Regions from separate parts of the Homo sapiens genome. Here region 2 is linked to region 1. The links come from fine-mapping of genetic effects on gene expression. A gene starts in region 1. The other region holds a variant in brackets. All regions are shown on one strand. Distances are between the middles of the regions. Region 1 holds the start of CYP4X1 (cytochrome P450 family 4 subfamily X member 1). Region 2 overlaps CYP4B1 (cytochrome P450 family 4 subfamily B member 1).

The links. PIP is the estimated chance that this variant, and not a neighbour inherited with it, causes the effect. A credible set is the group of variants that fine-mapping cannot tell apart.
Region 2: its variant is the best candidate, but not a certain one, in a credible set for the expression of CYP4X1 in unexposed skin (GTEx, PIP 0.70).

What each region holds. Positions count from the first base shown.
Region 1 is chr1:47,020,390-47,025,758 of GRCh38, forward strand. It overlaps CYP4X1 (cytochrome P450 family 4 subfamily X member 1), which reads left to right and starts at 3,280. Exons shown (of 12, transcript NM_178033.2): 1 at 3,280-3,605. The coding sequence starts at 3,429. LOC124904172 (a long non-coding RNA gene) reads right to left here and starts at 1,874. Exons shown (of 2, transcript XR_007066062.1): 1 at 1,159-1,874; 2 at 1-706. RefSeq lists an enhancer at 3,574-4,074.
Region 2 is chr1:46,811,015-46,816,383 of GRCh38, forward strand. CYP4B1 (cytochrome P450 family 4 subfamily B member 1) reads left to right here. Exons shown (of 12, transcript NM_001099772.2): 3 at 126-170; 4 at 1,482-1,609; 5 at 2,468-2,592; 6 at 2,895-3,049; 7 at 3,195-3,301; 8 at 4,060-4,250. Among named protein-coding and RNA genes, the nearest start is that of CYP4B1, 15 kb to the left of the region's middle. The variant C/A (reference allele first, on the strand shown) is at 1,976.

The DNA of each region.
Region 1 (5,369 bases):
GGATAAAAGCATCTCCTCAGCTACAAAACTTTTTTCACATTTTCTTCTCACCTGCATCCCCACTAGCCTGGACGGATTTCATTACTGGCTCCTTTGTCTGGCAAGGATATCAGCATCACTTTCTGTGATAGCTACCTTAAAAGTACTTAAGCGACCCTTGTCTCCCCAGTGCATTGAGCTCCCAGCATGTGCCCAGCACAGGGGCCTGGGACACAGTAAATGTTCAACCCATGTTTACTAACTGAGCACATGAGCAAATCAGAGAGCAGTGAATCTCTGGAATCCCACATTGGTGGGCTGCAATGCTATCCTGGGATACAGCTCCACAAAATTCTAGACTTTTATCCCCATGGTTCCATGTTCTTAAAATTCATTTATTATTAAGTAATAATAGACTTCCACATCTTAATGGATCAAAAATATAGATTGCCATACTGAATTATTATAATTTCGGTCAAAGGTTAGTTACCTTGCACTGCCCTGTTTGTAGACAAATGTATGCTTTTCTTTGGGCTGTGTGTAGGATTGAAGCAGCTACTCATTGGCCTTCATTTCTTGTCTCTTGTGTCTGAGATGGAAGGAGCCATCAGATGAGCATTGGGAGAGGCACAGGCCTCCTTCTGGGAGTCTCATGGGGCTTATTTCCATCTAGAGGCACCACTATCCAGGTTGATGGGATTTTTTTTGGTATCTCCAATTCCCTGTACTGTAGCCAAGAAAATTCAATTCAGTAGATATTTGTGCAGGAATGCCAAAAAAAAAAAAAAAAAAAAAAAAAAGGAAGGAGGCGCTGCTCTGTTTTTGGCCTCCAGAATCATATTTTTGAGTTGTAGCAAGTATCAAAAGCCAGTCTTTGGCCAGAATAAATAATTTTCTAAATTCCTTTCTCTCCCATTAGCCTGCCCTGTTGGAGTAGATTACAGAACTTTATTCTCCACCAGGGATAGCAAAAACACAAGCAATAACATAAGGATATTTTCTACCACATGAAATGGAGGTTGTGGGGAAAACCCACCTCTTGCAGCCTGGTGGACTGAGGCAAAAAGTGGCAGAGGTCGGGTGGTCAAGAGAGTATCTAATTATCCCCCTCTAGGCTAAAATCCTGGGATTGGGGTTTAGATAGAGTGAAAGGAAAGTTGAGAGCACAGGGGATTTTACCTTGCATCTTTTTTTGGAGAAACCAGAGTGAAAATGGCAGTGAAGCAGAGAAGGCCTGAACTTCAAGCCTCTTCAACACCTTCCAGCCTCTCTTAGGCTCCTAAATATAGTGCAAAAAGTTCCAGAGTTCCTTTGTTACCCATGAAAGCACATGGAACGGTGCTGGACAGGGGCAACTGGCCCTGGAGCAGAGGAGTAACTGCATAGAACTGTCCAAGCCTCAGAGGGAGTCACACCACCAGCAAGAACCTGGGTGGGAGTAGGTGAGCCAAGGGGTTCCCAGGCTCTGACCCTGCCAAGAGAACTCATTAGAAGGTCACCAACCACACATACTATTCCTCGGTCTCATGAAGAACCCAGGGACCGGACCAGGCAAGATATCACAAAGCTGAAGTTTCAGCTCTGGGGCAGAGCATGGATCTGAGGTCTTTGGCCCTACCACCATGCGATCATATGAGGGCCATCATACAACCATCATGATTTGGGGGAGGAATAGGGCATAGAGGAATCATATGAAAAGCTGAAATGCCATGAGTTACCCAGAAGAAGCTGTGTAAGCCAGAGGATTCTGAGACCCTGTCAAATAACAACATCTAGTTGAAGGTTGGAGTTAGGTAGGAGGTAGGGAAGTCTGGGAAAGAAGGAGCTGAAACACTTGCTGTGTGTGGCTTAATGGAACATGCAAGGGGCCAGGACGAACTTGGTCCAGATGAAGTCACCACCCCTGGGGCCTGTCTTTTTTTTTTTTTTTTTTTTTTTTTTGAGACGGAGTCTCACTCTGTCACCAGGCTGGAGTGCAGTGGCGCGATCTCGGCTCACTGCAATCTTTGCCTCTCGGGTTCAAGCGATTCTCCTGCCTCAGCCTCCTGAGTAGCTGGGATTACAGGCGCGCGCCACCACGCCCAGCTAATTTTAGTACTGTTAGTAGAGATGGGGTTTCACCATCTTGGCCAGGATGGTCTTGATCCCTTGACCTCGTGATCCGCCCGCCTCGGCCTCCCAAATTGCTGGGATTACAGGCGTGAGCCACCGCGCCCGGCCCCCTGGAGCCTGTCTTAATCACTTACCCGCCAAATAAAATCTGGCTCCAGAGAGTGGAGCGTAGGCTTAAGGAATTGGGGGCGGAAGGGCGGGGAAGGTGGGGGAGGGACAGTGATAGGGAGAACAGGGAATTGTAGCAGAAATTGGGTTTATTGTTCAGAGCTGTCAATGAACACTTAACATATGCCTGTCTTAGCCTAAATCAATGAATAAATGAATGAATAAATAAATGAATGAAATGTGGGCAATGCCTATAAAGATTGCTGGGACAGGGAGGTGGGGGGAGACACCAGCTTGGGAAGTCAGGCTTGTTAGATCCTAGTTCACCACCTGATACGTTACAAATACTAAAACCATCACTTTCAAATTATTTTTACTACATTTTCCTGTTATCTGTACTCGAGTTTATTTATGTTTCTGGCATCTAGAGTCAGCCCTTCATGGGCATGAGACCCAAGCAGCCACACGAGGCTCTGAACCCAGAAGAGCATATGCTCGGTTTAATGGTCTGTCATCTTAGAATTGTTAATAAAGTTTTTATCCCGCATTTTCATTTTGCACTGAGATTCATAAATTATATAGCAGGCCCTGACTGTACCTGTATAGTGGAATTACTATATGATGGTACGCTACTGTGCATATCTTCCCCGTTCAGTGTTCAGTGCCCTCGTATCGGCAGCTTGAACTAGCTCATGGTACACGCTGGGAATCAGGGTGGGAATCAGTTGTAAACCATTTACCGGAACACCACTAGGCAGGCCACAGGATAAAGGAATAATGATGGTACACCTCCCCCTACCTCTACCACCTGGGAATTTTGGTAGAATGCCAGAATGGAAAAGAAAATCTCTTGCATAGCCATTTATAATTTGTGATAAGGAAGAAAAACAATGACCTCAGCTTTAGCATTATTTTACAATATAAATTCAGATCCCGTGACTGAAAACTGTTGGACTTAAAAGAGGACGCTCCAGGAGCGCAAAAGCAGTTGGGCCGAACGAAGCGTGCGCGCTTTGGTAACCGGCTAGAAATCCCGCACGCGCGCCTGCCTCCTCTCCCCAGGCCTGAGCTGCCCCTCCCACTGCCTTTCCTTCTTCCCGCGAGTCAGAAGCTTCGCGAGGGCCCAGAGAGGCGGTGGGGTGGGCGACCCTACGCCAGCTCCGGGCGGGAGAAAGCCCACCCTCTCCCGCGCCCCAGGAAACCGCCGGCGTTCGGCGCTGCGCAGAGCCATGGAATTCTCCTGGCTGGAGACGCGCTGGGCGCGGCCCTTTTACCTGGCGTTCGTGTTCTGCCTGGCCCTGGGGCTGCTGCAGGCCATTAAGCTGTACCTGCGGAGGCAGCGGCTGCTGCGGGACCTGCGCCCCTTCCCAGCGCCCCCCACCCACTGGTTCCTTGGGCACCAGAAGGTAGATGGGAGGGAGGAGGGAGGAAGGAGGAGGGAGGGGCGGAGGAGGATGCGGCAGAGGAGCCCAGCCGGCAGAGAGACGCAGCTTTCTTCCATCCCTGGGGACCCTCCGGCTTGCACTGGCCTTTCCAGCCCGGCCTGTGGCTCTTAGCATCATTTTTCCTTGCTCTGGAGAATTGCTTTCCCGCAGCCCCACAGGGAAAGGTCACAAAAGAGGAAGCTTTGGGGGCTGGGAGAGAGCTATTTAAAGAACCTGAATATGGAAAAAGAAAGCGAGCTGTAACTCAAGTCTGTCTCTCATTGCTTCACCAAGCCTTCCACATGTGTTGCTTTAAAAATAGCATGTTATTCTAAATAACTTATTAGTTGCAGAAAATATGCAAAATCTATCCCAATCGTTGGCACCCTTAGTCCATTTTAACAAGAGAAAATTTTCTTTTCCTAAGATTCTTGTGAAGTAAGGAGCAGCCCCAGCCAGCCACTCGAGAAATACTGATTGATGGAAATTTGTAAAGGGAGACTGTTAGCTTTTGGTCTCTCCCGTTTTTTAAATCCACTCCCACCCCTAATTAAGGTTTTTATTCATTCAACCGACTCTGAGTGGCAATTGTGTGATAGGTACTAAGATTACAAAGAGAAGCTAAGTCCCTCCCCTGCACCACCCAAGTCAGGTGCAGACTTAGGCCACAGAGAGAAAATGAAAATTTAAGGCAATGGGTGCTTTACTAGAGGCCTAGAGACAAGGGAATATCTGTCGGAGGAAAGTATACATCTCCGCCTAGAGAAGGAAGGAAAGTCTGTGAAGGGCTGAGCAGAGTCTTAAAGGATGGTTGGGTGGTGTGGGGAAGGCATTCCAGCAGAGCTACTACACGATCCTTTGGTTTCCCCACTTTCTAGTCTTTCTTATATAAAGCAACCACTTTCAACTCTTTTATCGGTTTCTTCTGGTATTTAAATACTTATTTGTAAAATAGTATTACCATATTGCATCTATTAATTTAATAAGTTTAGACATCTGCTGTGGTTTAGATATGGTTTGTTCGTCCCCACCAAGCCTCATGTTGAAATTTGATTCCCAATGTTGGAGGTGGGATCTGATGGGAGATCTTTGGGTCATTGGGATGGATCCCTCATGAATGTCTTGGTGCAGCTGTCTCCTTCATAAGTTCTCACTCTCTTAGTCCCTCTTCAACCCCCAGAACTGATTGTTGAAAAGAGCCTGCCACCTCCTCCCCTCTCTCTTCCTGTCTCTCACCATGTGGTCTCTGCACACAACTGCTCCTGTTCACTTCCACTATGAGTGGAAGCCGTCTGAGATCCTCCGCAGATGCAGATGCCAATGCCATGCTTCTTGTACAGCCTGCAGAATTGTAACCCAAATAATCCTCTTTGTGAATGACCCAGCCTCAGGTATTCCTTTACAGCAACACAAATGTACTAAGACAACATCCACCTATGAACTTCTTTATGACAGGCAATCACTTACACTTCATATTCCACTGTCCCAGTAACTATATAGTATTGTATTTTTTAAATAGAAAAACTTCTATTTGTATTATTTTTATTATGCAAATGTTATTTACTGCTGATCTAAATGGTCCTCTTTCATTTTATTTCTTTTCTCATAGAACTTTTCCCCACCCCCACAGTATTGTTAACTTCTTCCTTTTCTAATCTGCTTCATTTTTCAATATTTGTCACTATTTTTTTCCAAATCCTCTAATAGATCTGTCAAACACATCTAAATAATATTTCCAAATATGCA
Region 2 (5,369 bases), 210 kb before region 1:
TGATATGGGGAGGAAGCCTGGGCCTGTGTACTAAGTCTGCGGAGCTGAGGTTCCCACCCTACTCATAAATGAGCCTCCTCTAGGAACCCCGGGTCCCTGCTTGACCTGATTGTCTCCTCCTGCAGACCCTAAGGCCCCTGATGTGTATGACTTCTTCCTCCAGTGGATTGGTGAGTGAGCACCTGCCTTCCCTGCCCTGCCAACCTCAGACCCGTGGTGCTGGGTGACTAGGATCCTGGCCTGTCCCACTCAATTGGTTATCCCAGATGGCCTAGTTCTCGGGTGCCCATCCTAAGCTCAGCTGCTCAGTGGAGAGACAAGGGAGGAGCAGGAGAGCCCCCAGCTGTGGGGCCAAGGCATCTTCTCTGGCAGGGCCTGATTCTCTAGACAGGGCAAAGGCTTTGGAGAATGTGTGAGTGCGAAGAACAGTTTCCTGAAGGAGGTGGCACTAGAGTTGATCCAAAAGGAGATTTAAATAGGTAGTGCTGGCCAGGGCAAGGGCCTAAGGAAATGGTGTGGTGGTAGGACCACGGCTGGTCACCAGAGGCTGTGAGGCTGTCGGGGTGGCTACAAGGCAGAGCCCAGCTTGGAGATGATGCTGGGCAGGGAGGACAGGCCAGCCTTGACTGCCAGGATAAGGAGGTGATTTGATGTTGAGAGTAGGTGGGAGTCATTGAGTATTTTATTTTATTTTATTTTACTTTTTCCTTTACAGAGGTACTCAAGTTAAAGCCATTGAGTATTCTTTAGCCAAGGCCATATGCTTCTCCAAAGCTCCTCTTTTACTCATGATCCTATGGTGTCTTCAGCGTTTTCCTGGGAGCTGAGAAAGGGCAGGGCCAAGAGGGAGAACACATTCCCAATCCTATTTACTCACCGAGTACCACTGGGAAGACTTTTTGCTTCTAACCCTCTTTTTAGTTATCAATGGGAGGATAAAATTAGAAGGCAGACAGAAAAGGGTTAGGAAAATGAAGAGGTGGTTTTGAAGACAGGAATGCATTTCCATTGCTGGGTGTGTTGGAGTGGGGTAGGAAGGGTCCCACCTGAGGCCATGAAGCACGAACACGGTGGGACATTCCCTAAGTCCTGAAGCTGTGGCCAGTCTCAGCAGCTGAGAGTCAAGGCTCAGCAGGCTCCCCCTCTGCTTGGCTGTCCCCAGGGGGATGCGTGTCCTTTGTCTCACATCTGGCAATGTCATCTGACACAAGTTCCTGGACCCAGGCTTTGTGGGTGCAGCTGAGATACAGAAACTGAGTTATCCTGTCCTAAGGAAGGAGCTCACTCAGCCAAGAACTGCTGCCACCTGTCTCCTGAGGTCCTGGTAGCCTAGGGTGAGGGCATGGAGGGCAATACTGGGTCGCTTAGTGGCCCACCCTTGGAGGGTTCCAGGCTCAGGGATGGAGTCGTGTAGGATGTGCTTAGCCCCAGGCTGCCAGGGCCTGGACTGACCAGCCCTCTCTCTCCCATCCCTTCCCCAGGGAGAGGCCTGCTGGTTCTTGAGGGGCCCAAGTGGTTGCAGCACCGCAAGCTGCTCACACCTGGCTTTCATTATGATGTGCTGAAGCCCTATGTGGCCGTGTTCACTGAGTCTACACGTATCATGCTGGTGAGCTCCCTGTGCCAGAGTACTGGAGGCTGTTGCCTGCTGGGCTAGCCCCTCTCCACCCTGATTTTGTCCTGGGGAGAGTAGGTGGTGCTCTGCAGTAAGGAGAATAGCTGAGCCCCAAGGCCTGTTCTGCCTGCAACAGCAGTGCCAAAGCCCTGCTCTACTGACATGTGCCGCAGGCTGCCACTGAGTCGGTGCTGAATCTCTAAGTGTCCTGGCAGCCCGATCCTTGTCTCCACCAGGAGACCCAGCCCTCTTTCCTCCCAGGCCAAAGGGTCTCTGTGAGAACTTAATAAGGCTCCTAGCATAGCAGGTTTGAGGACTGCCTATATTTGAGAGTATGGGGAAAGGCTTTCACATCTAAAA[C/A]GTGTCTCCTCATTTTCTGTCTACCACAGCTGCCCAGAATTATGTCAATACAACTCATCTCTAAGAGGGATGTCAGAGGTCAGGGTTAGAGTCTTAGGGCTGGGTAATCCCTAAGTTATCCAGGCTAGTCTTTCCCCTTGTAGGAAACTCCCCTCCAGGATTACTTACATATACACCATGCGGGGGAGCTCACCACCTCTCAGCCATCCTACTCCCTTATAGGCTGCCCTGACTGGGAGAAAACGTCTGTGTGCTGTGCAAGATCTGCCTCCTGGTCCTGCCCTCTGAGCCTGAAGCCCAGAGGCTTCCAAACTTCTACCCACCCTATCCTGATATTCCAGCAGGATGGAGGGCAGGACAGGGACTGGGAGTGTGTGAAGGGGGCTTGGTGGTGGAGGATAGGCTACGGGTCCTGGAGGGCAGCTTGGGGCATCCAGCCCAACTAACCCCTGCATCGCCTCCTACACATTGCCTCCTATCCCTGGACTCCAGGACAAGTGGGAAGAGAAAGCTCGGGAGGGTAAGTCCTTTGACATCTTCTGCGATGTGGGTCACATGGCGCTGAACACACTCATGAAGTGCACCTTTGGAAGAGGAGACACCGGCCTGGGCCACAGGTCAGGAGCCACCTCGGGGCTGACCGCACTGTCTCCAAAGCCATCTTAGAGGGGAGAGTTGGCAGGGGTCCTGGGCTCTGATCTGAGAAGAGATAGGGTCCTGCCCCAGGGAGCCTTAGCTTGCGGGGAGACAGGACCTGCTCATGGTGGGGTAAACACCTGGCTTTAGCAAGGAGGCTTAAGGGCAGGGAGAAGAAGAGCAGGATGCTCTGTGGTTGGGGCTAGATTCCTGGAATGGAGTTTCTCTGGCTCTGCTCCTGGGCCAGTGTCTAAGCCAATCCCTCCTCCTACCCTCTGCTTAGCAGGGACAGCAGCTACTACCTTGCAGTCAGCGATCTCACTCTGTTGATGCAGCAGCGCCTTGTGTCCTTCCAGTACCATAATGACTTCATCTACTGGCTCACCCCACATGGCCGCCGCTTCCTGCGGGCCTGCCAGGTGGCCCATGACCATACAGGTGGGCCTTTCCCACAAGGCTCACCTCTAGGAAGCCTGGGTTCCTCCTCCTGGCCCCTCTATGCCCCCTCCCATTATAGGACCCCAGTTCCCCTTTGGACAAAAGATGGCTTCCCAGGCAGTGACACTCTGTGCTTTTGGTTCAGACCAGGTCATCAGGGAGCGGAAGGCAGCCCTGCAGGATGAGAAGGTGCGGAAGAAGATCCAGAACCGGAGGCACCTGGACTTCCTGGACATTCTCCTGGGTGCCCGGGTGAGTACATTGTTGCCCACCCCTACCTGAGGACTGGTCCCAGAGAGGTCTTCAACCATCCTCCCAGGACAGCAGAAGGAGCTCTTAAGCATTTCCCCCTTTCCTCAGCAAATATAACCTGTTCCTCGTCCCATGAAACATATTAGCAGGGGTTCAGAGGTGGGCAGGTGTAGGGTGTGTGTGCCTGAGCTGTGGAGTTGGGAGCCTAGGTCACGTGGTAGTGGCTGGACGACATTTCTAGACTTCTAAGATCCCCCAAAATGTTGGCCTTGTAGAATCCTAGAATCTTAGACTTCATTCATTCATTCATTCATTCAGTAAGTTCTTTATTCATCAATTCTAGAAACTCACTGAGTTCTGACTCTGGGTCATTTCCGTGCTAGGATGCAGAGATGGGAAAGACCTGGCCCTTCCTTCCAGATGCTTACAGTCCAGCAGGGGAGACAGTAGGTAGATGTTGACCAAAATGTCTTCCTCTGGCAGGTGGTATTCTATGTGCCCAGTGAGCAGAACAGTCAGGGCTGGACAAGGTCACAAGTCATTTGGCCAGAGCATTTAGGGAGGGCTTTGTGGAGGAGGAGGCATCCAGGCTGAGCTTTGAAGGAATATAGGAATCTGGGGGAAGGTCCTAATCCACCCTCTGAAAAGGAGCTTTCACTCCCTCCCAGAGACCTTCATTTGACAACCACCATTATGAGTTCTTCTTGTTACCCACCTCCAATACCTCAAGCTGTCCTATTATGCCTTCCCTAACCCAGGATGAAGATGACATCAAACTGTCAGATGCAGACCTCCGGGCTGAAGTGGACACATTCATGTTTGAAGGCCATGACACCACCACCAGTGGTATCTCCTGGTTTCTCTACTGCATGGCCCTGTACCCTGAGCACCAGCATCGTTGTAGAGAGGAGGTCCGCGAGATCCTAGGGGACCAGGACTTCTTCCAGTGGTGAGTCTGAGGGTGGGCCCGGTTTATCCTGCTCAGCCCTTGGGAAGGGCGATGCCCATCCTGTCCTGAACCATCCTGGAAATCAGGTGAGGTGGCGGCTGCTATCCTGTTACCCCCAGTGTCATACCTTTTGTGGTGGTGGGGGGTGGGGAGAGTGGTTGGCTGGGCACAGATGCACCCCTGAGCCCATTCTCCCAAAATGGAGCCTTTCAGAAGTGTTATGTAGAGAAAGTTGTCAACAAGAGGCTGATATTTTGTGTGCTAACTTCTTCTGACGGTAGAACCTGATTACCCTTCTGGGTCCCTGGATAGAGTAGGGAGAGCTGGGAGAGAAAGAGGTGGAAATGTGGGGGTGAACAGAGCTGAGACAGCTGGGAGAGCCAGTTCCTTGCTACTTGCCTTTGGATGGCAATACTCAGCTTCCAGATGCCATATCTCTCCTGCTGGTGAAGGAGAAAAGACTTCCCCAAACTTCATCACTTAAAAACTTTCCATTGTTTTCCCCTGTTTCTTGGCTCAAGACTGAACTCCTAAACACTTAAGGATTGACCCTGACCTCTCTGCAGTGTGATCTCTGGGAGTCTCTCAAGAGGCTCCTTCACCCTTGCTGGCTGCCTGTTCCCCTCAGGCCTTTGCTTGTGGTCAGACAACCTGCCTTTCTCTCTGGGCTCCTGAGCAGCCTCCAAGAGGGGGCTAGGCACACAGCAGGGGTACAGAAAATGCTGAGCCAGAGGGGGAACTTTAGATCCACTTGAAAGGGACTGACCTATAACTCCAGGGTCTAGGACCTGGAGTATGAAGCCTCCATTACCATTTCTGTTGGTCATATGTGAGAATCCCCCCCCCACGGGGTATCCAGACACATGCCAGGTGCTATCAGGGGTGCAGAACGGAAGAGAAAGAGAAGCCATGCTGCTCGTGGGGAGTTTTATGGAGACAAATTCACATAATCAAACAGCGAGAGAAAAATCACAGGATCACGTGGTCTGAATGTTGAGGGCAGAGGGAAGGAGTGAGGCTTGAACTGACTTTCTAAGGAGGGTTAAAATTCAGGCAAAGAGAGAGAGGTAGGCATTGTAGGCTGGGTAACAATGTGAACACAACCCGAGGCAGGGATTA